Linked DNA regions of Homo sapiens: all the other regions are linked to region 3. Evidence: fine-mapped expression QTL. A gene starts in region 3. Each other region holds a variant in brackets. All regions are shown on one strand. Distances are from middle to middle.

Region 1 (8,183 bases), 64 kb after region 3:
CAACACTTTGGGAGGCTGAGGCGGGCGGATCATGAGGTCAGGAGATCGAGACCATCATAGCTAACAAAGTGAAACCCCATCTCTACTAAAAATACAAAAAATTAGCCGGGCGTGGTGGTGGGCACCTGTAGTCCCAGCTCCTCGGGAGGCTGAGGCAGGAGAATGGCATGAACCTGGGAGGCGGAGCTTGCAGTGAGCCGAGATTGTGCCACTGCACTCCAGCCTGGGCGACAGAGCGAGACTCCATCTCAGAAAACAAACAAACAAACAAAAAATCTGCATCTGCTGCCAGCTTGCCTTTTTCTTCTTGGAAGTCCCCTCTCTCTTACTAGAGAGAGAGCTGTTTTCCATCTTCTTTCTCTTGCCTTTTAAACCTCTGCTCCTAAACTCCTCATGTGTCTGTGTCCTAAATTTTCCTGGTGGGAGAAGAGGAATACCAGGTGTATACCCCAGACAACGCAGCTGCTTCGCTAGTAGACATTTTTATACAGCCAGATTTTGGTTTACTTGAATTTATCTAACTTTAACTTTAAGGACACATTTAATCTTTAAGGACACTTTATTTATTTATTTATTTATTTATTTATTTGAGACAGTGTCTCGCCCTGTCGCCAGGCTGGAGTGCAGTGGCGTGATCTTGGCTCACTGCAACCTCTGCCTCCCGGGTTTGAGCGATTCTGCTGCCTCAGCCTCCTGAGTAGCTGGGACTACAGGCACGAGCCACCACGCCCAACTAATTTTTGTGTTTTTACTAGAGACGGGGTTTCACTATGTTGGCTAGGATAGTCTCAATCTCTTGACCTTGTGATCCGCCCACATCAGCCTCCCAAAGTGCTGGGATTACAGTGTGAGCCACTGTGCCCAGCCTTATGTATGTATGTATATATGTATGTGTGTATATATATATATATATTTTTTTTTTTTTTTTTTTTGAGACAGAGTCTCACTCTTGTCGCCCAGGCTGGAGTGCAATGGCGCGATCTCGGCTCACTGCAGCTTCCCCTTCCCGGGTTCAAGGGATTCTCCTGCCTCAGTCTCCTGAGTAGCTGGGACTATGGGTGCCCACCACCACTGCCAGCTACTTTTTGTATTTTTAGTAGATGCAGGGTTTCGCCATGTTGGCCAGGCTGTTCTTGAACTCCTGACCTCAGGTTTTCCACCCACCTCGGCCTCCCAAAGTGCTGGAATTACAGGTGTGAGCCACCATGTCCCGCCTCTTTAAGGACACTTTAATCTTTAAGGGCACATTGATTATTATAGCCTTGCAAACGGTCACATGAGGTGATTCATGAATAAGGAATGTGTTTTAACTTTTACCAGGTGGGGATGAGTTAGATTTTCATTGAACTGCAAGATCTTATTTTTAGCCTGACCGTAAAGATGGAAGGTTGGGGGAGGTGATATTTAATTGGGGAGTAGGAGAGGAGAGGTGATATTATTAAAACTGCTTGTTTATTTGAAAACTTCTAGCGTTTAATTGCTGTAGGAATGAGTAATTTCATTGGGATACTGTTTAATTCTGTTTTGATAAGGATTTTTCATTAATCTACCTATTTTACTAATGTCACACTTTTCTAGGCCTTCCTGAATATTTAATTTGTTTTAATCTCAGAACCTAACTTTCCAAGGGCTTAGCCAGGCTTCCTCCATTTTTTTTTTTTTGAGGCAGAGTCTCACTCTGTTGCCCAGGCTGGAGTACAGTGGTATGATCTTGGCTCACTGCAACCTTCGCCTCCCAGATTCAAGTGATTCTCCTGCCTCAGCCTCCCAAGTAGCTGGGACTAGAGGTGCCTACCACCACACCCGGCTAATTTTTATATTTTTAGTAGAGACGGGGTTTCATCATGTTGGCCAGGCTAGTCTTGAACTCCTGACCTCAGGTGATCCATCTGCCTTGGCCTCCCAAAGTGCTGGGATTACAGGCGTGAGCTACCGTGCCCAGCACAGGTTTCCCCTTTCATTCTTGAACCATTTTTGCATAGACATGTGAGTGTACAGTAAAGCCGGTAGACAGGCCTGAATGAGTTGTGCTCCCAAATAGAGCAAACGGGGGCAATTCAACCCATGGTGTCTCATCTTCTGGAAATACGGGCTTGTGTTTTTTAATAGTATCGTCTTTCAAAGTGACTGTCAGGATTGAATACTTTCTGAGATTAGGGTTTTGAGAAATAATTTAAGGGGCAATAATTTCATCCATCCTCATAGCCAAAGGGCAGACTCTATGTTTAGAGAAGCAAAATTCTAGCCCATGATTCAGTGTATCAGTAAGACTCTGGAGAACGGGACTTTGTTTTGCAGTATCCAGAGCCATATCTTGTGAAGCTGGAAGCTCACCTTGCAAATGCCTGAGTTTTGGGTTTAGGAAGCCTACAGCCGCATACAGGTGCCCTAATCCTGTGAAAGCATCTTTACACAGCTGATACCAAAAAGTTGTATGTTGTAAATGTTAAAAATTAGGTAGTCTTGATTCACTTGAATCATTAAAAAAGTGATTTTTAAAATATAATTCCATTTTAAGATTGAAACAAATCAAACCCCTTAGATTAAAACCCAGATTGTTGCTTTCAACAACTATTTCAGTTGGGTTTACTGTATAGAAATAAGTACATTGTATCTTTTTTTTCTACACAGTGAAAATAAACTAAAATTTCCCTCCGGTTCAGTATTAACTGGAACGCTTTCTGTACTGAAGGTTTTAGTCCTCAATCAAACAGGAATAACGTGGGCTGAGGTAATCATATTTCTTTGTTTTATTACACATTAATAAGCAATTAAAAATGTTTGGTTTAATAGAGAATTGTTAGTACAGTTTAATAGTACAACTGTGGCTTCATTTAAATCATCCCAGTATCTATTAATAGATAACAAGATTCATTAAAGTGCCTTATAAAAACGAGTTAAAAGAGCATCATAGTTGAGTTTTGCATCTGGAAATCCATGTCCTATCTCAGCTCATTTTGACTTGTTCTGGTGCCTTTATAAACAGTGGCGCTCCGTTATGGTATGAACCAGTATGTGCTGAGCTTCAAAAAGCCGTAGTGTTGGCTATTGACTAGCTTCCTGAGTTTTCCTGTTAGTTTTTTTTAGAACAGAAGCCAAGCAGCAGAAAGGTTCTCACATACTTTTCTTGTTAGAAGTTCGGCTCTTGGAATCCACTGTTCATTTTATACAGCCGGGCTCAAAAGTAGACTTGTGGGTCCTTGGCACAGCAGCATTTGGGACTTATATCTGGCAGTACTATTTCCTGTCTGAGGTGTACTGACTTCACACACCCAGAGCATTCCACTTTCTTTTTTTTTTTTTTTGAGACGGAGTTTTACTCTTGTTGCCCAGGCTAGAGTGCAATGGTGCAACCTTGGCTCACTGCAACCTTTGCCTCCCAGGTTCAAGCGATTCTCCCACCTCAGCCTCCCAAGTAGCTGGGATTACAGGCATGTGCCATCACACCCAGCTAATTTTGCATTTTTAGTAGAGACATGGTTTCTCCATGTTGGTCAGGCTGGTCTCGAACTCCTGACCTCAAGTGATTTGCCCGCCTCGGCCTCCCAAAGTGCTGGGATTAGAGGTGTAAGCCACCGTGCCCAGCCCACTTTCATTTTTATTTATTTATTTTTCTTGAGACAGAGTCTCACTCTGTTGCCCAAGGTGGAGTGCAGTGGCGCAATCTCGGCTCACTGCAACCTCCGCCTCCCAGGTTCAAGTGATTCTTCCGCGTCAGCCTCTCAGGTAGCTGGGATTACAGGCATGTACCACCATGCCCAGCTAATTTTGTATCTTTAGTAGAGACAGAGTTTCTCCATGTTGGTCAGGCTGGTCTCGAACTCCTGACTTCAGGTGATCCACCCACCTCGGCCTGCTAAAGTCCTGGGATTACAGGCGTGAGCCACCGTGCCCAGCCCACTTTCATTTTTATTTATTTATTTTTCTTGAGACAGAGTCTCGCTCTGTTGCCCAAGTTGGAGTGCAGTGGCATGATCTCGGCTCACTGCAACCTCCGTCTCCTGGGTTCAAGCAATTCTCCAGCCTCAGCCTCCAAAGTAGCTGGGATTACAGGCGCTTGCCACCATGCCCAGCTTATTTTTGTATTTTTAGTAGGGACAGGGTTTCACCATGTTGGCCAGGATGGTCTTGAACTCCTGACCTCAAATG[A/C]TCTGCCTGTCTCAGCCTCCCAAAATGCTGGGATTACAGGCGTGAGCCACTGTGCCCAGCTTGGGCATTCCACTTTCAAACCAAGGGTGTAGAAATACATTCCCAGCCATGTTCACCCAGGAAGTGCCACAGAGGCCACTCAGTGAGAGACAGGTGGGCCCCTTGTGCCCTTAATATGCCCGTGGCCATGGAGCCTCTTTCCTAGGGCCCCTCCTCTGTGAGGCGCTTACTCCCTCTCAAGGTGTAGATGTAGCTGGAAGACAAGAAGGGGCCAGACACTGGCACTGGGGCTCACACCTGCAATCCCAGCGCTTTGGGAGGCTGAGGTGGGAGGATCACTTGAGCCCAGGAGTTTGAGGCTGCAGTGAGCTAGGATTGCACCTTTGCACTCCAGCCTGGGTGACAGAGCAAGACGCATCTCACCCTCCAAATAAACTAGGAAGGGCACACAGAAATTGAAGTGGTGGAGATGGCAGTAAAGTTCCAGTGAGAAAATTTAGAAATAGTTGGTGAGGCTGGTCATGGTGGCTCTCGCCTATAATTCCAGCCAGCACTTTGAGAGGCCCAGGCAGGAGAATCACTTGAGGCCAGGAGTTCAAGACCCACCTAGGCAACATAGAGAGATCCTGTAGATGCTATATATATATTATATATTATTATACATAATTATATAATATATAATAATTTTTTGTAATTTTTTTTTTTGTAAAAAAAAAAAATTAGGCTCATGCGCAGTGTGGTGGCAGCAGGCACGGTCTCGACATGCAGAAAGACGCCAGCAAGTTCGTGGATCTGTGCGTGCTGCAGAAATGCTCCACCAGCAACTGCATCATCAGTGCCAAGGACCACACATCCATGCGGATGAACGTGGCCAAGGCCAGTGAGGTCACGGGCAGGTTTAACAGCCAGTTTAAAACCTGTGCTATCTGCAGGACTGTTTGCAGGATGGGTGAGTCAGATGATTCCATTCTCTAATTGGCCATGGCCAAGGGCGTCATCTCAACTATTTGGTTTTTGAGATGGAGTCTTGCTCTGTTGCCTAGGCTGGAGTGCAGTGGTGTGATATTGGCTCACTGCAACCTCTGCCTCCTGGGCCAAAATGATTCTCCTGCGTCAGCCTCCCAAGTAGCTGGGATTACAGACGTGCACTACCACGCCTGGCTAATTTTTTGTATTTTTAGTAGAGATGGGTTTTCACCACGTTGGCCAGGCTGTTCTCAAACTCCCGACCTCAAGCATTCTGTCTGCCTCAGCCTCCCAAAGTGCTGGGATTACAGGCGTGTGCAACCATACCCGGCCATTTTTGTATTTTTAGTGGTAATGGGTTTCATCATGTTGGCCAGGCTGGTCTCCAACTCCTGACCTCAAGTGATCCACCTGCCTTGGCCTCCCAAAGTGCTGGGATTACAGGCATGAACTCACTGTGCCCGATCTCAAAGAACTTTTGATTGGAGAGAATCATGGATGTAGAATATTTGTCATAAATATATAATGAAAACTTTAAAAAATGTATAATTAAAAAAATAATGAAAGAAGAAATAATTGTTGAGAAATTTATGAAAGGATATGAAAAATTAGCATATCCTTTACAAACCCAGATTGGCATTTAGAATTGAGGAAAGGTGTGTAACATCAATTTACTTATTTTGGTTAAGCAAATTCTATCAAATAATAATATGTGCAGTTAGTATCTCCTGTTCCACCTCGTAGCTGCTTTACCTAAACCATGCATTGACACGTACCTCCAAGGCCTCAAAGTGCCCACAGTGTGTGCTCCCACAGCATTAAAATGCACCCCCTTAACATTTTATTTATCACCCCCCACCACTATTCCAGGCCTGAAACAGTCTTATGAACTGTCCGTGAGGCACTTGTTTGCTGAAACAGTAACTGAGCTGAATTCTTGTGGTGGTTCCTATGAACACCCGGGAAGAAACAGCCAGCAGAGGCCGCCTGAGCCTGAACCGAGTTTCTCTTCCAGGTGCTGCGGTGTGTCGCGGGGTGCCCAGGCCTGGAGGAACTCTACCTTGAGTCTAACAACATTTTCATTTCCGAAAGGTAACTAGCACTTACTTAAATGCATCTATCCCCATTTAATCATCATTCTGAGTAAATAAATGGTCTCAATTATATCTAACCTTAATTTTTAGAAGGATTTGCAAACAAGAATTAGGAAAAATGCTTATTATTCATTGCCTTCACAAATTAGAATTTCACTAATTGGTTCTAATCAAAGGAAACTCATCAGAATTAAATATTTGTGAAGACATGAGTTATATTAGTTTTGCATCAGTGTATTAACTTGCTGTTTCTTTTTTTTCTTTTTCTTTTTTTGAGACAGAGTCTCACTCTGTCGCCCAGGCTGGAGTGCAGTGGCGATCTTGGCTCACTGTAACCTCCGCCTCCTGAGTTCAAGCGATTCTTCTGCCTCAGCCTCCCGAGTAGCTGGGATTATAGGTGCCTGCCACCATGCCCGGCTAATTTTCTTTATTTTTAGTAGAGACGGGGTTTCACCATCTTTTACGGGGTTTCACCATCTTGGCCAGGCTGGTCTCGAACTCCTGACCTTGTGAGCCACTGTGCCTGGCCAACTTGCTGTTTCTAAATGGAAGTTCTGTAGGATATGCTATAAGGATTAAATAATGTATTTTTCATTAGCATCATCTGTTTAAGGTCATTGTACCAAAGTACATGTAAAACTTTGTTCTCTGAAATATATTGTTGCCTCATCTCCTTTTTAAATTAATAATATTAAATTACTATGTAAAATTAACCTAACTGTGGGAAAATTTACAACAGATTCTGAATTAAAGGATTCAGAATCTTAAAGATTTTCGTTTACAGAAGGGTTTCATTATGTAGGCAAATGCAGGTTTTTTGTTTTGTTTTTTTTTTGAGATAGAGTTTCATTCTTGTCACCCAGGCTAGAGTGCAATGGCACCATCTCGGCTCACTGCAACCTCCACCTCCCTGGTTCAAGTGATTCTCCTGCCTCAGCCTCCCATGTAGCTGGGACTACAGGCACGTGCCACCATGCCTGGCTAATTTTTGTATTTTTAGTAGAGACGGGGTTTCACCATGTTGGCCCGGCTGGTCTTGAACTCCTGACCTCAGATGATCCACCCGCCTCGGCCTCCCGAAGTGCTGGGATTACAGGTGTGAGCCACCGTGCCTGGCCTGCAGGTTTTTTAAATTAAATTTTTTTATTTTGAGATAATCATATATTCACATGAAGTTTTATAAGAAATGATACACAGAGATCACTTGTACCCATGACCCAGGTTCCCCCATTGGTAACAAGTTGCAAAACTATGATATAGGATCACAGGCTAGGTGTGACACTGATACCGGCAGGAATATGTGCATCACCACAGGGACCACTCAGGTTGCCCCTTTACAGTCATATTTACTTGCTTCTTATCCCCAGCCCTCCATCGCACCAAATGCAGGGATTTTAAGGCTGTATCTTTGAAAACAATTAAGAGATAAATTCACGGTGAAAAAATTTTATTTTCCATACAGGCCAACAGATGTTCTCCAGACAGTCAAGTTATTAGATCTTTCCTCTAATCAATTAATTGATGAAAATCAGCTGTATCTGATAGCCCACCTGCCCAGGTAATTTGCCCCTAAATGCCTGATACAATAGTGTTCAGTCAATTCTTAGTGAAGCAGTTTTCATATGCTATGTATGCTTTCTCAATAGAAACGTGGTAACAATGATGGAATTTCTAAATTGAGTAATTCCCTTTGGGAAATTTTCATTTGAATTCATTTAGAAAATTTACTTGTGAACCCTGTATAATGTGGACTATGTCTGTACCAGATAATTTGAAGAATGAATAATTTGACCCTGGTGATAATGCGGAAAGTCTTCATTCATTAAACTCCGGGCAGTAGACCGTGTCTCTTTCCTCTGAGACGCATTTAGCACCTGACATAGCAGTAGGTACTCAAGAACCATTAGGTGACTATGGAGTCATTAGAATACAGGATAAAGAGTTCACTTTGCATGTCCTAAGTTGGACTTTATG
Region 2 (8,183 bases), 77 kb after region 3:
AGATAGATGGGGGGATTTAGAGAAATGTTGTCACTGTTTGGCCTAGAGCAGGAAAAAAGTACTGCTTTCCTCCTCTCCTGTGGAGGCTGTGGTCCAGGCCTAGGAACTGGTTTGCAGTATGGTACTGAGCACCCAGCCTGGCACTGCACGGTCTGGTGGAAACGTGAGAAGTGTCCTGTGGATCGTGTCTCAGGTGGCACCAGGTTTCTGTCAGCGCAGAAAGAGAACTGTTACCAAAGGTGACACTCGGGGAAAACATTTGAAGTATTTGAAGGCAGTCTTCTCTTGCTAGTTTTGAGTCAGGACACCTAAGGAACAATGATGTAATACACATGTAAACATGTTGCTTTTCATTTGTTGTCTTTTGTTGAGTTTCACTGGTCATTAACAATGAGCTAGATAAGCTACAGAGTCTGCAGCTCTGGGTAGATAGAAGATTCTGCCCTTGGAAGTGGTCGTTGTCCATCACTCCTAAAAATCACACTGAATAAAGGCAGCTCCATGTGTCCTGGGAAAGGCACAGGCTCTCTGGACGCTTACCTATCCTTTGTTTGTTTGTTTGTTTTGTTTTTACTTATAGTGGCCTTTGGTTTATCATTCATCTCTTTTGCTTTCTTAAACAGAATATGGTGCACCTGAAGATTGGGAACTCAAAACACAGCAACCACTTATGCTGAAAAACCAGCTACTAAGTAAGAATCTCAGATTCAAATAGTTTATTTGTATTTGAGTGCTTAGGTGCTGAAACAGTTAGTGTGTTTCTCTTAAGTGTGTACCTCTTAAGTACCTAAGTAAATGCCTTGAGTTTTAAATGAAAATTTTTTTTTTTTTTTTTGAGACAGAGTCTCCCTCTGTCTCCCAGGCTGGAGTGCAGTGGTGTGATCTCAGCTCATTGCAACCTCCGCCTCCCAGGTTCTAAGCGATTCTCCTGCCTCAGCCTCTGGAGTAGCTGGGACTACAGGCATACACAACCATGCCCGGCTAATTTTTTTTAATCGAGACGGAGTTTTGCTCTTGTTGCCCAGACTGGAGTGCAGTGGCACGATCTTGGCTCACCGCAACCTCCGCCTCCCGGGTTCAAGCGATTTTCGTGCCTTAGCCTCCCGAGTAGCTGGGATTACAGGCATGCGCCACCACACCCAGTTAATTTTGTATTTTTAGTAGAGATGGGGTTTCACCATGTTGGCCAGGCTGGTCTCAAACTCCTGACCTCAGGAGATCCACCCGCCTCGGCCTCCCAAAGTGCTAGGATTAGCGGCATGAGCTACCGCGCCCTGTCAAAGAAATGAATTCTTTAAAACATGTTTAAATTCTTATACATTTTTGTAACTCCTATGTTTTAAACTCATTTAATAGTGTTATAAATGTGGGAGGTATTGGAGTTGTGAACCAAATTGTGATTTGTGAATTTATGACTTGAAAACCTAGCCAAGCTGTAAGGAAAGAAGTACTAAGTGGGGAAAAGGGAAAGTATTGTCCAGCTATTTCTGTTGTTGTTAGCAATCCATGGAAGGATTAATAGAAAGAATTTTAAACATTGATTAGACCTGCCAATTTGCACTGAATACCTCTATCATTTGGCCATCTGTTGATGTGTGTGGATAATTTAAATCCATATAATAGTAGATATCAATTAGTCTTTTTCTTTGTTTCTCTTAAAGCACTGAAGATAAAATACCCTCATCAACTTGATCAGAAAGTCCTGGAGAAACAACTGCCGGGTAAGAAGAACCAGCCTGTCTTTTCCTTAAACTCTGAATCATCGGCCTAGGTATGAGTCAGCTAAAATTAAAACCTTTAACTCATGTCTCAAAGTGTGGACCTCAGAACTTACAGGTTTTCATTAGTCTTTTATATTCTAAAATACAATCAATCATGCTAATATCACTCCCCCATGCCCCCAAAAGTTCAGGTCTCCCCTAACTTTATCAGCTGAAAGCAGTTCTGTTAAAATTGGAAGCCCCTGCATATAATTACACACACACACACACACACATATATATATACACACACACACACAATTTTTTTTGAGACAGGGCCTCACTCTGTCACCCAGGTTGGAATGCAGTGGCACCAACTCAGCTCACGGCAGCCTCTGCTTCCTGGGCCCAAGCAATTCTCCAGCCTCAGCCTCCACGTAGCTGGGACTACACGTGCGAGCCACCAACGCCCAGCTAATTTTTGTATTTTTTGTAGAGATGGGTTTTCGCCATGTTGCCCAGGCTGGTCTCGAATTCCTGAGCTCAAAGCCATCCTCCTGCCTCAGCCTCCCAGTGTTGGAATTAATTACAGGCATGAGCCACTGCAGTTGGCCTAAGTTGTATTTTTAACCAAAAAACCTGAGACCTTGAATGGCATAGCCTTTTGGAAGCATTCCCCAAGCCTGCTGCTGTTTCCAGGGAGACTGTGACACTGGGTTTGGGGTCTGCTTCTCATCCCTTCATAAGAGAGGAGCTGTGTCCTGGTGAACCAAATTCTTACGGGAGGTTTGTGACTTTGCTTACATTCTACTTCTCCTGACTGATTAGGAGTCCCTGCAAAAACAATTCGCAGATGCTCTTTTAATGGACACCCTGAAATGGTTTTCTTTGAGAAAGCTACCTTAGAACTTAAAAAAATTGTGGTACTGGAACTGAATTACTTTTATTTGGAAAATAAATATGCTTGTGTCAATAAAGTAGATCAACATAACTTACCTTAAACTTTCACTCAAAAGAAAAATGAAATTATAGTCTATTTTTGAGTATGCCATGATACTGTGAATTCTCAAGATTAAACTTGATTCATAGCTAAATGCTAAAATATAAATAATTTAGAGCAGTGAGGATTTAAATAAATGAAATACACATCAGCTTAATGACTCTAGTACACTGGGTTTCTTTGCCCATCAGTGCAGTAAATTCACATTGATTTTTAAATTAGTTTCTATCAGATAAAGCAAGCTTATCATGGTATTGCTTATAGAAGGCCTTAGTTGTGTTCAAAGAAGTACCTTTCTGATTGATAACCATCCATTTAATTTACCACAACGTCTCCATTTTTATTTATTCACAATCCAGTTTCTACTCCTGTAATATGTAATTTGGCTACTGCTATATAATGGGTTAGAATTAGTGATTTCCCCCTTCATTATTCTGTTTTCAAACTTAGACAGACAGTAAAGGCCCTGGTGGAGACAGACTAGTCAAAGAGGGCCAGGACTGTTTTATTTTTGATATATTTTTTTCAGATGGGGTCTGGCTGTCACTCACGCTGGAGTGCAGTGGTGCCATCTCAGCTCACTGCAGGCTCCATCACCTTGATCCCGGGCTCAAGTGATCCTCCTACCTCAGCCTCCTGAGTAGCTGGGACTATAGGCACGAACCACCACACCCCGCTAATTTTTTTGATTTTTAGTAGAGATGAAGCCTCGCTATGTTGCTAAGGCTGGCCTCAAACTCCTGAGCTCAAGCAGTTCTCCTGTCATCACCTCCCAAAGTGCTGGGGTTATAGGTGTGAGCCACCATGCCTGGC[A/G]GGCCAGGACTTTCTGTGAATGTTTTTGGCCTTCGATGTCTTTGCGTGTTTCCTTTTGCCTTTGCAGATACATCAAATCAATTCATGGGAATGTTACCACTATAGAGTATTTGCTCAAGAATATTGTCATTAGACCTGTTTCGTTAAGCTTTCCTTTTCAGTCTTTCTCTGGAAGGCACTGAGGTAGACCTGCCAAGGCCTGCCGTCTGGGCATATGCCTGAATGCAGCCCTTGGCTGGGGGTGACAGTGCCGCCTTACCCTTCTCTACTTCCACACTGTACACCTGACTGGTATCCCAGGTCTTCTGAGATTCAGTTAGCCATTTTGGGAACACCCACTGCATTCATGCTGTTTTTATTAATCTTTGGGTAGCTAGCAGAGATTCGACTATCCATAGAAATTATATGTAAGAATTACTACTTTAAACTATTCAGAATCTGAGTCCTATATTCTATAAATTCAGCAGTAAGCCAGCAGATTACAAGGGTTCCTTTTTTTCCCCTTTTTTATTTGCTTTTCTGTTTCTCAAATGTGCACTCACTCACTCACTCATACAAAGGTTCTTAATACTAATTCTTATGCCACATGCTGTGAATATTTAACCACTAACATAGGTAAATGTCTTCTAAACAGAAAAGTAATAGCCAGGCATGGTGGCTCACACCTGTAATCCTAGCACTTTGGGAGGCCAAGGTGGGCAAATTGCTTGAGCCCAGGAGTTCGAGACCAGCCTGAGCAACATGGTGAAACCCCGTCTCTACAAAAATAAATAAATACAAAAATTAGCTGGGTGTGGTGGTGCATGCCTGTAGTCCCAGCTGCTTGGGCGGCTGAGGTGGGAGGATCACTTGAGCCTGGGAAGTTGAGGCTGCAGTGAGCTGTGATTGAGCCACTGCAATCTGGCCTGGGTGACAGAGTGAGGCCCTGTCTAAAATTAAAACAAAACAAAACAAAACTGCAATATCTTTTTTTTTATCCATTAGATTAGCAAAATTAAAATAATACTGGCTGGCATGAAAAAGCAGTATACCCTTTTTTAAAGTCATGTGGGAACTACTATAAAAAGTTAAAAATACACATATGCTCTGACCAAGCATTGTATCTTGCAGCATTTGTAATGGTAAAGATAGTAAGAATCTAAGTACTTGCCAGCGGAGGAATGGTGAATAAGCTCTGGTGGAACCACACAGCACACAAGGCACTGTCGTGTGTCACCGAGGAGAGTGAAGCAGTCTAGAGCTGCGCTGTCCAGTGTGGCTGCAATAACCACATGTGGCTATTTAAATTCATTAAAATAAAATAAATTGAGTTCTTCAGTCATACTCGCCGCTTTCCAGGTGCTCAGTACCACATGTGGCTGCCATACTGGGCAGTGTATGGCTAGAGGACATGGCATGGAATTGGCATGAAAAGCTATACCATCATGTCATAAAGAAATACAAATGTAGTACGTCAATATATTATAAAACCTATACATCCTTTTTTTTTTGAGACGGAGTCTCATTCTGTCACCCAGGCTAGAGTGCAGTGGCATGATCTCGGCTCACTGCAAACTCTGCCTTCCGGGTTCAAGCAACTCTCCCGGCCTCAGCTTCCCAAGTAGCTGGGATAACAGGTGCCCGCCACCATGCCTGGCTAATTTTTGTATTTTTAGTAGAGACGGGGTTTCTCCATGTTGGCCAGGCTGGTCTCAAACTCCTGACCTCAGATGATCCGCCCGCCTCGGCCTCCCAAAGTGTTGGGATTACAGGCGTGAGCCACTGCGCCTGGCTTAAAACCTATACATCCTTATATGAACACAGAAAAAAAAAGGCCTAGAGGTATACCTCTCAAATTTTTAACACTGGTCATAGGCAGGTAAAAAGAAATAATCAGCTATTTCCATATTTTCTGAATGTTAAGACAGTCATGTTACTATATTAAAAATGGTAATGCTATTTATTACATAGAGATTGCTACTTTCTTCTATAGAACCGGTATGAGTAGGCAGGTTTTTTTTTTTTTTTTGAGACAGGTTCTCACTTTGTTACCCAGGCTGGATGGAGTACAGTGGCGCGATCATGGCTCACTGTAGCCTTGACCTCCTGGGCTCAAGTGATCCTCCCAAGTAGCTGGGACTAGAGGCGTACATCGCTATGCTTGGCTAATTTTTTATTTTTTGTAGAGATGGGGTATCCTCATGTTGCCCAGGCTGGTCTCAAATTCCTGGGCTCTGATCCCTCTGCCTCCCAAAGTGCTGGGGTTACAGGTGTGAGCAGGCCAGGCAGATTTCTTATTAGAACTGTTTTATGACCAAACTTTTTGTTTCTGGCATGTGTTAGGAGTATGTCACTCCCCACTGGTGTGCAGCAGGTAACCCCTTCTCTCACCAGCCTTCAAACAATGAAAGCCAGTCCGTCTCAATCTTTTGAAAGGACTAGACTATCACATATTCACACATGAAAGAGCAAATTGTTAATTAAAATTATAAATTCTATTAACTGTATTCAATACATACAAAAAGGCCAGTTTTTATTCTAAAATAAAGAACATTTATTATCACAAGTTGGATAAAAACACACAGCTTTTACAAAAATGATTTTTGATAGAAAAATATGTTTGAATACACTGTGATATTTGTAGGAACACCACACTATTGCTGTATCTCCAGCTAAAGCTTCAAGGAAACTCTATTTCTTATAATCAAAATATCCACTATTTACCACAACCCGTCTTTGGAAAGAAGTTCATAGTGTATTCTGAACAAACCAAAGCATTTACTCGGAAGTTACATTCCCATGCCTGGCAGTCACTTGTGTATGTTTAATACAGTTACACATGATGTAATTACAGAATGGCGGCGCTGGAAGGGACCTTGTAGATCATTTAGTTGGCACCCTAATTTTACAGAGGGGGAACTAAGGCCAGAGTTGAGAGATGTCCTCAGGATACCTGAGTCCCATTCCAGTGTTCGTTCAGTAATTCATAAGGAAGTCATCATAAAGGTTTAAAAAGAAAACGTTAATGACTCGCTCCCTTTATTCTTCTGTGCTGAGAGTATCATTCTGGTTTATTCAGATTAAGAAAGAAATACACTACTGAAATGGTATGAAACTCACTGTCAAAGGGCACTTAGGTCCGTTGGCTCCGTTTCCCACAGTTCCCCAAATGAACAGGTGGTACAAGACTCAGGCTTTCCCCTAATTACTTACTTGGGTAAAGTGACTTGGGTAAAATGAAAGATACAGCCAGGCGCTGGGCTCATGCTTGTAATCCCAGCACTTTGGGGGGCCAGGGCGGGCGGATCACGAGGTCAGGAGTTCAAGACCAGCCTGGCCAACATGGTGAAACCCCGTCTCTACTAAAAATACAAAAGTTAGCTGGGTGTGGTGATGGGCACCAGCTACTCAGGAGGCTGAGGCAGGAGAATTGTTTGAACCCGGGAAGCGGAGGTTGCAGTGAGCCGAGATTACACCATTGCACTCCAGCCTGGGCGACAGAGCAAGACTTACTTAAGTAAGTAAGTAAGTCAGTCTCAAAAAAAAAAAAAAAAAAAAGACAGATACAGCTATCATTGCAATGATACTGTGGTCTCATCACATGAGCTAGTTTTACAGGTAACTGTCATTTGAGAGAACGAATGGACTTTTCTTGTCTTTTGATAGGCTCCATGACAATTCAAAAGGTGAAGGGATTGCTGTCACGTCTTCTCAAAGTTCCTGTGTCAGACCTTCTGTTGTCCTATGAAAGTCCCAAAGTAAGTTGCCCAGCAAAATACAAAGTCAAAGTCAAGCTTAGTCCTCGTATTATGACATTAAACTGTCTCTAGATAGCAACAGTTTGATTCTAAATGGAGACCATGGGTCTGTTTGTTTGATTTTAAGGGTAAGCTACTGCCTGGGGACGGGGTGGGGGAAGAGTATGTGTAGCATGCTTTATCGGATCTGTCTTAATCACATCCTTCCCCACCTTCGTTCTAATTTTAGAAGCCGGGCAGAGAAATCGAGCTGGAAAATGACCTAAAGTCATTACAGTTTTATTCTGTGGAAAATGGAGATTGTCTATTAGTGCGATGGTGACAACCAACTAATAAAATTTAAAGACCACACTGCTTATCGTGTCTGGGGTTCACCGGAAATAAATGATTCACTGGAACAATTCTACTGTCAAAACAAAGGGGGTTTACAACTTGTCCTAAGTATAACAAGGGATGTATTTTTTGTTGGGAAGTGACCATTTCTAGGCTTATACATAATAGCAATAATAAAGGCTTTGAACCTACTAATGATTTTCTGATCTTATTTCATATTTATTTTTACAGCTCATCACTGCATTTCATGATAAGATTTAAATATTAAATAGAAAGAAACTAGCTAGCCTAATAAAATCTGAACACAGTTAATATCTGTCATAAGACTAGTTTTAATGGAATTCTCTATTGAAACTACTATTTTAAAGGGTTACTAGAAATGATTTGGTTGGTCATTTTGGGAAATGTCCCTTAAACTTGGGGAGACATCCTCTACTATGTATAACAATATGCTATTATCTGTCTTCTCAGTTGCACTATTTCTAAGAGTACTTAAATTAATCACATGCTTTTCCCTACAATTATACCTAAGCTGAGTATATCTTCTTCTGTGATAACCAGCTTTGATTGAAATGTACTCATATTAGGTAAACATTAGGC
Region 3 (8,183 bases):
TGCCCGGCTCTTTTTTGTATTTTTTTTTAGTACAGATGGAGTTTCACCATGCTGGCCAGGCTGGTCTTGAACTCCTGACCTCAAGTGATCCACCCACCCCTGCCTCCCAAAGTGCTGGGAGTAAAGGCATGAGCCACAACGCATAGCCTGCAAATGGGTTTTGTTTTATTTATTTATTTATTTATTTATTTATTTATTTATTTATTTATGAGACGGAGTCTCGCTCTGTTGCCTAGGCTGCAGTGCAGTGGTGTAATCTCAGCTCACTGCAACCTCCGCCTCCCAGGTACCAGCAATTCTCCTGCCTCAGCCTCCCAAGTAGCTCGGATTACAAGGGCATGCCACCACACTCGGCTAAGTTTTGTATTTTTAGTAAAGACGGGATTTAACCATGTTGGTCAGGCTGGTCTCAAACTCCTGACCTCATGATCTGCCCACCTCGGCCTTCCAAAGTGCTGGGATTACAGGCGTGAGCCACTGTACCCAGCCTCTACAAGTGGGTTTTTAAAGGAAAAAAGAAGAGGTAGTTCCTAAGTTGTTTACCAATAATAATTTACATTAAAATAAAATAAGTTATTGATTGGCTACACATTGTTTTATTTTATTTTATTTTTTGAGATAGAGTCTCACTCTGTAGCCCAGGCTGGAGTGTAGTGGTGATATCTGGTCTCACTGCAACCTCCACCTCCTAGGTTCAAGCAATTCTCCCGGCTCACCCTCCCAAGTAGTTGGGACTACAGGCACGCACCACCATGCCTGGCTAATTTTTGTATTTTTAGTAGAGACGAGGTTTCACCATATTGGCCAAGCTGGTCTTGAACTCCTGACCTGGTGATCCGCCCGCCTCGGCCTCCCAAAGTGTTGGGATTACAGGCATCAGCCACCGCGCCTGGCCTATTTTTTCTTTTCTCACCAACTAATGGAAAAGTGAGGGCTTTATTTATGTATTCATTTTCAGATGGAGTCTTGCTCCGTCCCCCAGGCTGGAGTGAAGCAGCACGATCTCGGCTTACTGTAGCCTCTGCCTCCTAGGTTCAAGCAATTTCTGCCTTAGCCTCTTGAGTAGCTGGTTTTACAGGCATGTGCCACCACACCCCACCCAGCTAATTTTTTTTTTTTGAGACGTAGTCTAGTTGTGTCACCAGGCTGGAGTGCATGGCGCGATCTCGGCTCACTGCAACCTCCGCCTCCCAGGTTCAAATGATTCTCCTGCCTTAGCCTCCCAAGTAGCTGTGATTACAGGCACACAGCACCATGCCCAGCTAATTTTTGTATTTTTAGTAGAGACAGGGCTTCACCCTGTTGGCCAGGATGGTCTCAATTTCTTGACCTTGTGATCCACCCGCCTCAGCTTCCCAAAGTACTCGGATTACAGGCATGAGCCACCACGCCTGGCCTTTTTTTCTTTTTTGAAACAGGGTCTCACTCTATTGCCCAGGTTGGAGTGCAGTGTTGAGATCTCAGCTCACTGCAACCTCTGTCTCCCCTGCTCAAGAGATTCTCCCAACTCAACGTCCTGAGTAGCTGGGACTACAGGCACCTACCACCACGCCTGGCTAATTTTTGTGTTTTTTTAGAGACAGGGTTTCGCCACATTGCCCAGGCTAGTTTTGAACTCTTGAGCTCAAGTGATCTGCTTGCCTCGGCCTCCCAAAATGCTGGGATTATAGGTGTGAGCCACCGTGCCCTGCTGAGGAGAGTCTTAGTTTGGGATCCATGGATTCCTTTGAGGCCTATTCATGGGCTTCAAAGGATTAATCAGTCCTTGAAATCATACGCAAAATTTGTGTGTAGGTAGATAGCTTTTATCAGATTTCCAATGTGGTTTTTAATCCCCTCTTCCAAAGAAAAAACAATCACTGTAATATCTAGTTTCTAGTTTCAAGGAGTGAACTATCAAAGTATAAAACAGTAGAGACATCCAGCAGGATACTGACTGTTTGTGTCCATTTAATATGACAATTAGAAGGTCACTTCTTGGAAGAGTCATTTGGCTTTGCTCCCTCAATTTCCTTTCCACTTCACCTCACTTCAGTCTGGTTTTGGAATGCTAACACTCACTCTACCCAAACTGCTCTTGTTGTGGAGTCTGTGGTATCCACCAATGGGTTCTTTCTGCCTGCTGCACAAACAAAATTAATTGACAGAAACCATGGCATTGCAGTAAAGAAAGTTTAATTGACGCGAGGCTGGCCATGCCACGTGGGAGACAGAGTTGTTACTCAAATCCATCTCACCAAAGGCTCAGAGGTTAGGGGGTTTTTCAGATAGTTTGACAGGTACGGGGCCAGGGAATGGGGAGTGCTGACTGGTTGGGTCAGAGGTGAAATCATAAGAAGTAGAAGCTGTCCTCTTGCACTGAGTTGGTTCGTGGATCCCCAGGTTGATGAGTCAGGGTGGGGCCATCCACTTGTCAGAAATGCAAAAACCTGAAAAGACATCTCAAAAGGCCAATCTTAGGTTCTACAACAGTGATGTTATCTGCAGGAATGATTGGGGAAGATGCGAATTTGTGACCTGTGGAATAATGGGTGGTAATCATTTAACTACAATTACAACTTAGAAGAATTCAGGACCCTCTCATTCTCCTAACTTGGTGGCCTTTCATTTAGTTTTAAAAGGGCAGTTTTGGGGAAGGGTTATTATCATTTAAACTATAAACTAAATTTCTCCCAAAGTTAGTTTGTCCTGTGCCCAGGAATGAGCAAAGACAGCCAGTCTGTGAGGCTAGAATCAAGATAGGAGTAAACCATGTCAGATTTCTCTTACTGTCAAAATTTTGCAAAGGCGGTTTCAACAGAAATTAACATGTCTAGGATAGTTGCTTTTTCTATTATTTTTTCTATCACTGCATTTACTTTCATTCTGCCTTATGCTTTAACTAGGTAATTTTTTTTTTTTTTTTAGTTTTGGCGGTATCAACACTATATTCTTCTCTTTGACCACCGCATGCTGCCTACGTGGTAGACTCTCAATACGCATGGAACTGAACCTCTTACAGGATTTGTAACTCACTTCTGTGGTATCTAGTAAACTGGAACACGCGCTTTCCCTGGGCTGCTCTGTCATCCCAGGTTTCAGCACTCGGAAATCGCTTGGGCCCCCGCCCAGAGGCGGGGCTTGGGTGGGCTGACCACTCCTCTGGCCTCCAATACTGTCGCTGACATTCTCGTCTATGCTCCAGCAGCCGTACCTCACTCCGGTGGAGGCGGGACTTCCTACAGCACTTCCGGCCAGAGCCTCAAGCTTCGCTGCTGGGCAGTTGGCTGGAGGGGCTGCTGCTGGGAACACCTGGAGTCTCCGCGGGCAGGTGAGCTTCAGAGGTTCGGGGAGCTTTCGGAACGAGCATTCCTGGCCGGTGCGTCACCCTGCAGTGCTCTTGGCCTTTTCTTCCTTTCCTGGAATCTTCCCAGATTGCCAGAGCCGGGCGTTGCCTGCTCCGTGCGCTGGGAGGCGGTCCAGCCGGCTGGGTTGGGGCCACCCTGCGCCTCCTGGAAGGCCTTATTTAGGAGTAGCCGCACGTGATCTCTAGCATTTTAAGCTTCTCTCAGAGAATTGGCATGTCACTTTGGAAGAGGTGAAAATGGTACAGGCGACCAACGACTTTTACAAGGTGTCACCTTAGAGGAACAGCCTCGTCCTTCCGAATCAGTTAACATTGGTGATGACAGAGAAATAACGTTAAATAGGTGGAGAGCACTTAAAGTAACTGTTTGTTCTTTTGAGACAGTCTTGCTCTGTCGCCCAGGCTGGACTGCAGTGGCGCGGATCTCTGATCTCGGCTTACTGCAACCTCCGCCTCCTGGGTTCAAGCGATTCTGCTGCCTCAGCCTCCCGAGTAGCTGGGATTACAGGCGCGTGCCACCACGCTCGGCTAATTTTTGTATTTTTAGTAGAGACAGGGTTTCTCCATGTTGGCCAGGCTGCTCTCGAACTCCTGATCTCAGATGATCCACCCGCCTCGGCCTCCCAAACTGCTGGGATTACAGGCGTGAGCCACCGCGCCCGGCCTAAAGTAACTATTTTTACTTGGTGTTTACTACCAAATGGGGACTGTTCTAAGTTGTGGGTGGATCCAAATGATGGTGTGACAGCCTTATCCTCAGAGAAGCAGTCCTGGCAGGAAGACGGGGTTAACAAATTGCCAAACTGTTAGAGAAAGTTAGTGGAGGTAGAGATGAAGAGAGAAGACTTTTCTTTTCTCTGGCATTAATTTAGCCACGGCCGCTGTGTTTTGATACTTGCTTCAAACGTTTTTCATATTCTTAAGTTTTAACTTTTCTGTATGCTCATATTTTATATACTGTTGTAAACAGCATATCTCTGGGTTTTTTTTTTAATCTAAGTGGACAGCCTGCTTTTTTTTTTTTTTTTTTTTTTTGATATGGAGTCTTGCTCTGTCGCCCAAGGCTGGTGTGCAGTGGCCCAATCTCAGCTCACTGCAACCACGCCTCCCAGGTTCAAGCATATCTCCCACCTCAGCCTCCCGAGTAGTTGGGATGACAGGTGTGTGCCACCATGCCCAGCTAATTTTTTTTTTTTTGTATTTGTAGTAGAGATGGGGTTTCGCCATGTTGGCCAGACTGGTTTTGAAGGCCTGACTTCAGGTGATCCACCTGCTTCAGCCTCCCAAAGTGCTGGGGCTACAGGTGTGAGCCACCGTGCCCAGCCCAGTCTGCCTTTTGACTAGCAGGTTTATTGGATTTACATTCATTGTCACTACTGAAATATTTGTCTAGATGAAAATCTTTGGTATCATCCCTGATTAATCTCTTCCATATATATCAGCAAATCCTATGGACTCTCCACCTTTAAAATCTGTCCACACTCCCAGGCTCTTGTTATCACCTTCACTTGTTCAAGTTACGTTGTCTCGTACTTGAATTACTGCAGTAGTTTCTGCTCTTTCCTCTTTTAGTCTGTTTGCATCACAGTATCTCGGTTGATCCTTTAAAAAAAAATCAGATTTATGTCTTTCCTCTCAAAAATCCTCCAAGGACTACACATTTCACCTGGAGTGAAAGCCAAAGTCGGCCGGGCGTGGTGGCTCATGCCTGTAATCCCAGCACTTTGGGAGGCCGAGGTGGGTGGATCACGAGGTCAAGAGGTCGAGACCATCCTGGCCAACATGGTGAAACCCCGTCTCTACTAAAAATACAAAAATTAGCCGGGCGTGGTGGTGCGTGCCTGTAATCTCAGCTACTCAGGAGGCTGAGGCAGAAGAATCGCTTGAACCCGGGAGACAGAGGATGCAGTGAGCCGAGATCGTGCCACTGCACTCCAGCCTGGCGATAGAGCAAGACTCTGTCTCAAAAAAAACAACAAAAACAAAAAAAACAAAAACTGGCTGGGCGCAGTGGCTCAAGCCTGTAATCCTGGCACTTTGGGAGGCCAAGACTGGTGGATCACCTGAGGTCAAGTGTTCAAGACCAGCCTGGCCAAAGTGGCGAAACCCCGTCTCTACTAAAAAAAAACACAAAAAATTACCCAGGTGTGGTGGTGTGTGTCTGCAATCCCAGCTATTAGGGAGGCTGAGGCAGGAGAATTGCTTGAACCTGGGGGCAGGCGCGGAGGTTGCAGTGAGCCGAGATTGTGCCATTGCACTCCAGTCTGGGCAACAAGGGCAAAACTCTGTCTCAAAAAAAAAAAAAAAGCCGAAGTCTTCAGAGTGGATTATTCATCGAAGGTCCTATGTGACCTAGCCCTGCTTCACTGCTGATCTCATGTCGTTCTCATCTCCTGTTTGCTCTACTGTATGGTCTCCTCAAGCGCATCCTAGCCTCAGGATATTTGCACTTGCTATTCCTTTCCCTCATATGTCCACATGGCTCAGTTCTTTACCTCTCTCATATTTTGGGGACCTTTACCTTCTCAGTAAGGCCTTCTCTGACAAGCCACTGCCATCTTTAACATTTCCATTGCACTCGTTATCCTTGTGCTTATCATCATATGACATGCCATGTGATAGAGTCATTTATCTGGTTTATTATGTTTTCTCTCACTGGCATAGAAGGTTTATGAGGGCAGGTATTTTTCTGTTTTGTTTACTGCTGTATTCTTTTTTTTTTTTTTTTTCTGAGACGGATTCTTGCTCTGTTGCCCAGGCTGGAGTGCAGTGGTACGTTCTCGGCTCACTGCAACCTCTGCCTCCTGGGTTCAAGCAATTCTCTGCCTCAGCCTCCCAACTAGCTGTGATTACAGGCGCATGCCACCATGCCTGGCTAATTTTTGTATTTTTAGTAGAGATGGGGTTTCACCATCTTGGCCAGGTTGGTCTTGAACTGCTGACCTTGTGATTCACCCGCCTCAGCCTCCCAAAGTGCTGGGATTACAGGCGTGAGCCACTGCACCCGGCATTTTTTTTTTTTTTTTGGGAAGATCTCTTATTGTACTTCCCTGTAAAATCCATTACTGTTTTATTCCAATTGCCTAAAATAGTATCTGGCTTTTAGCAGACACTCCATAATATAATTGTTGATTGAATGAATTTGGGGTTTTTGCACCATCTTCTACACTTCATATTTTTATGCTTTTTTCCTCCTTGTCTTTTCTTTTTTTTTTTTTTGAGATGGAGTCTTGCTCTGTCGCTCAGGCTGGAGTGCAATTGTGTGATGTCGGCTCACTGCAACCTCCGCCTCCCGGGTTCAAGCGATTCTCCTGCCTCAGTCTCCTGAGTAGCTGGGATTACAGGCGCACGCCACCACGCCCAGCTCTTTTTTGTATTTTTAGTAGAAATGGGGTTTCACCATGTTGGTCAGGTTGGTCTTGAACTCCTGACCTCATGATCCGCCCGCCTCAGCTTCCCAAAGTGCTGGGATTACAGGTGTGAGCTATCACGCCTGGCTTTTTTTTTTTTTTTTTTTTTTTTTTTTTTTTTTGAGACAGAGTGGTTGCTCTTGCTGCCCAGGCTAGAGTGCAATTGCATGATCTTGGCTCACCGCAACCTCCGCCTCCTGGCTTCAAGCAATTCTGCCACCTCAGCCTCCTCAGTAGCTGGGATTACAGGCATGCGCCACCATACCTGACTAATTTTGTATTTTTAGTAGAGATGGGGTTTCTCCATGTTGGTCAGGCTGGTCTTGAACTTCTGACCTCAAATGATCCACCTGCCTCAGCCTCTCAAACTGCTGGGATTACAGGCGTGAGCCACCGCCCCCGGCCACTCTTGTCTTTTTTTTTTTCCCTTTTTTTTTTTTTTTGAGACAGGGTCTCCCTCTGTCACCCAGGCTGTAGTGCACTGACACGATCTTGGCTCACTGCAAGCTCTACCTCCCGGGTTCAAGTGATTCTCCCACCTCAGCCTCTGAGTAGCTGGGATTATACGCGTGTGCCACCATAGCCTGGCTAATTTTTGTATTTTTATTAGAGATGGGGTTTCATCATATTGGTTAGGCTTGTCTCAAACTCCCAACCTCAGTTGATCCACCCACCTCTGCCTCCCAAAGTGTTAGGATTACAGGCGTGAGCTACAGCACCCGGCCCCACCTTTTTTTCTGAGACAGAGTTTTGCTCTTGTCACCCAGGCTGGAGTGCAATGGCACGATCTCGGCTCACTACAACCTCCACTTCCCGGATTCAAGTGATTCTCCTGCCTCAGCCTCCCAAGTAGCTGGGATTACAGGGACCCGCCAGCATACCCAGCTAATTTTTGTTTTTTTAGTAGAGGTGGGGGTTTCACCATGTTGGCCGGGCTGGTCTCGAACTCCTGACCTCAGGTGATCTGCCTGCCTTGGCCTCCCGAAGTGCTGGGATTACAGGCATGAGCCACTGTGCCTGCCCTTTTTTTCATTTTTTCATTTTTTTGTACAATAGGGTCTCCCTCTGTTGCCCAGGCTGGAGTACAGTGGTGTGATCAGGGCTCACTGCAGCCTCGAACTCCTGGGCTCAGGTCATCCTCCAACCTAAGCCTCCCAAATACATTGGCCTATAGGCGTGCACCACCACACCCAGCTGATTTTTATATTTTAATTTTTAATTTTGCTGTGCATATTTAGCTGGGATTACAGACGCACTCCACCTCGCCAGGCTAATTTTTGTATTTTTAGTTGCAACGGGATTTCACCATAGTGGCAAGGCTGCTCTGGAACTCCTGACTTCAGATGATCCTCCTGCCTTGGCCTCCCAAAGTGTTGGGATTACAGGCGTGAGCCACCGCTCCTGGCTGGCTTTGTAGAACCTTAAAC

Direction of the effects. Positions count from the first base shown, and alleles are read on the strand shown. Sizes are in standard deviations (SD) of each study's normalised expression.
As copies of A replace C in region 1, the expression in prefrontal cortex of the gene that starts at base 3,233 in region 3 goes down (moderate effect, 0.61 SD a copy in ROSMAP).
With allele A in place of G in region 2, the expression in tibial nerve of the gene that starts at base 3,233 in region 3 is lower (small effect, 0.25 SD a copy in GTEx).

The links. PIP is the estimated chance that this variant, and not a neighbour inherited with it, causes the effect. A credible set is the group of variants that fine-mapping cannot tell apart.
Region 1: its variant is the best candidate, but not a certain one, in a credible set for the expression of TBCE in prefrontal cortex (ROSMAP, PIP 0.59).
Region 2: its variant is the best candidate, but not a certain one, in a credible set for the expression of TBCE in tibial nerve (GTEx, PIP 0.64).

Annotation. Positions count from the first base shown.
Region 1 is chr1:235,428,074-235,436,256 of GRCh38, forward strand. TBCE (tubulin folding cofactor E) reads left to right here. Exons shown (of 17, transcript NM_003193.5): 7 at 2,632-2,731; 8 at 6,131-6,207; 9 at 7,672-7,767. It also overlaps the pseudogene RPS21P1. Among named protein-coding and RNA genes, the nearest start is that of TBCE, 65 kb to the left of the region's middle. The variant A/C (reference allele first, on the strand shown) is at 4,150.
Region 2 is chr1:235,441,191-235,449,373 of GRCh38, forward strand. TBCE (tubulin folding cofactor E) reads left to right here. Exons shown (of 17, transcript NM_003193.5): 14 at 624-692; 15 at 1,662-1,721; 16 at 7,159-7,250; 17 at 7,480-8,183. The coding sequence ends at 7,572. B3GALNT2 (beta-1,3-N-acetylgalactosaminyltransferase 2) reads right to left here. Exons shown (of 12, transcript NM_152490.5): 12 at 6,000-8,183. Among named protein-coding and RNA genes, the nearest start is that of B3GALNT2, 59 kb to the right of the region's middle. RefSeq lists an enhancer at 1,041-2,240. The variant A/G (reference allele first, on the strand shown) is at 3,514.
Region 3 is chr1:235,364,195-235,372,377 of GRCh38, forward strand. It overlaps TBCE (tubulin folding cofactor E), which reads left to right and starts at 3,233. Exons shown (of 17, transcript NM_003193.5): 1 at 3,233-3,310. LOC124904559 (a long non-coding RNA gene) reads right to left here and starts at 3,226. Exons shown (of 2, transcript XR_007066957.1): 1 at 3,016-3,226; 2 at 2,159-2,429. RefSeq lists enhancers at 2,940-3,653, 3,193-3,532.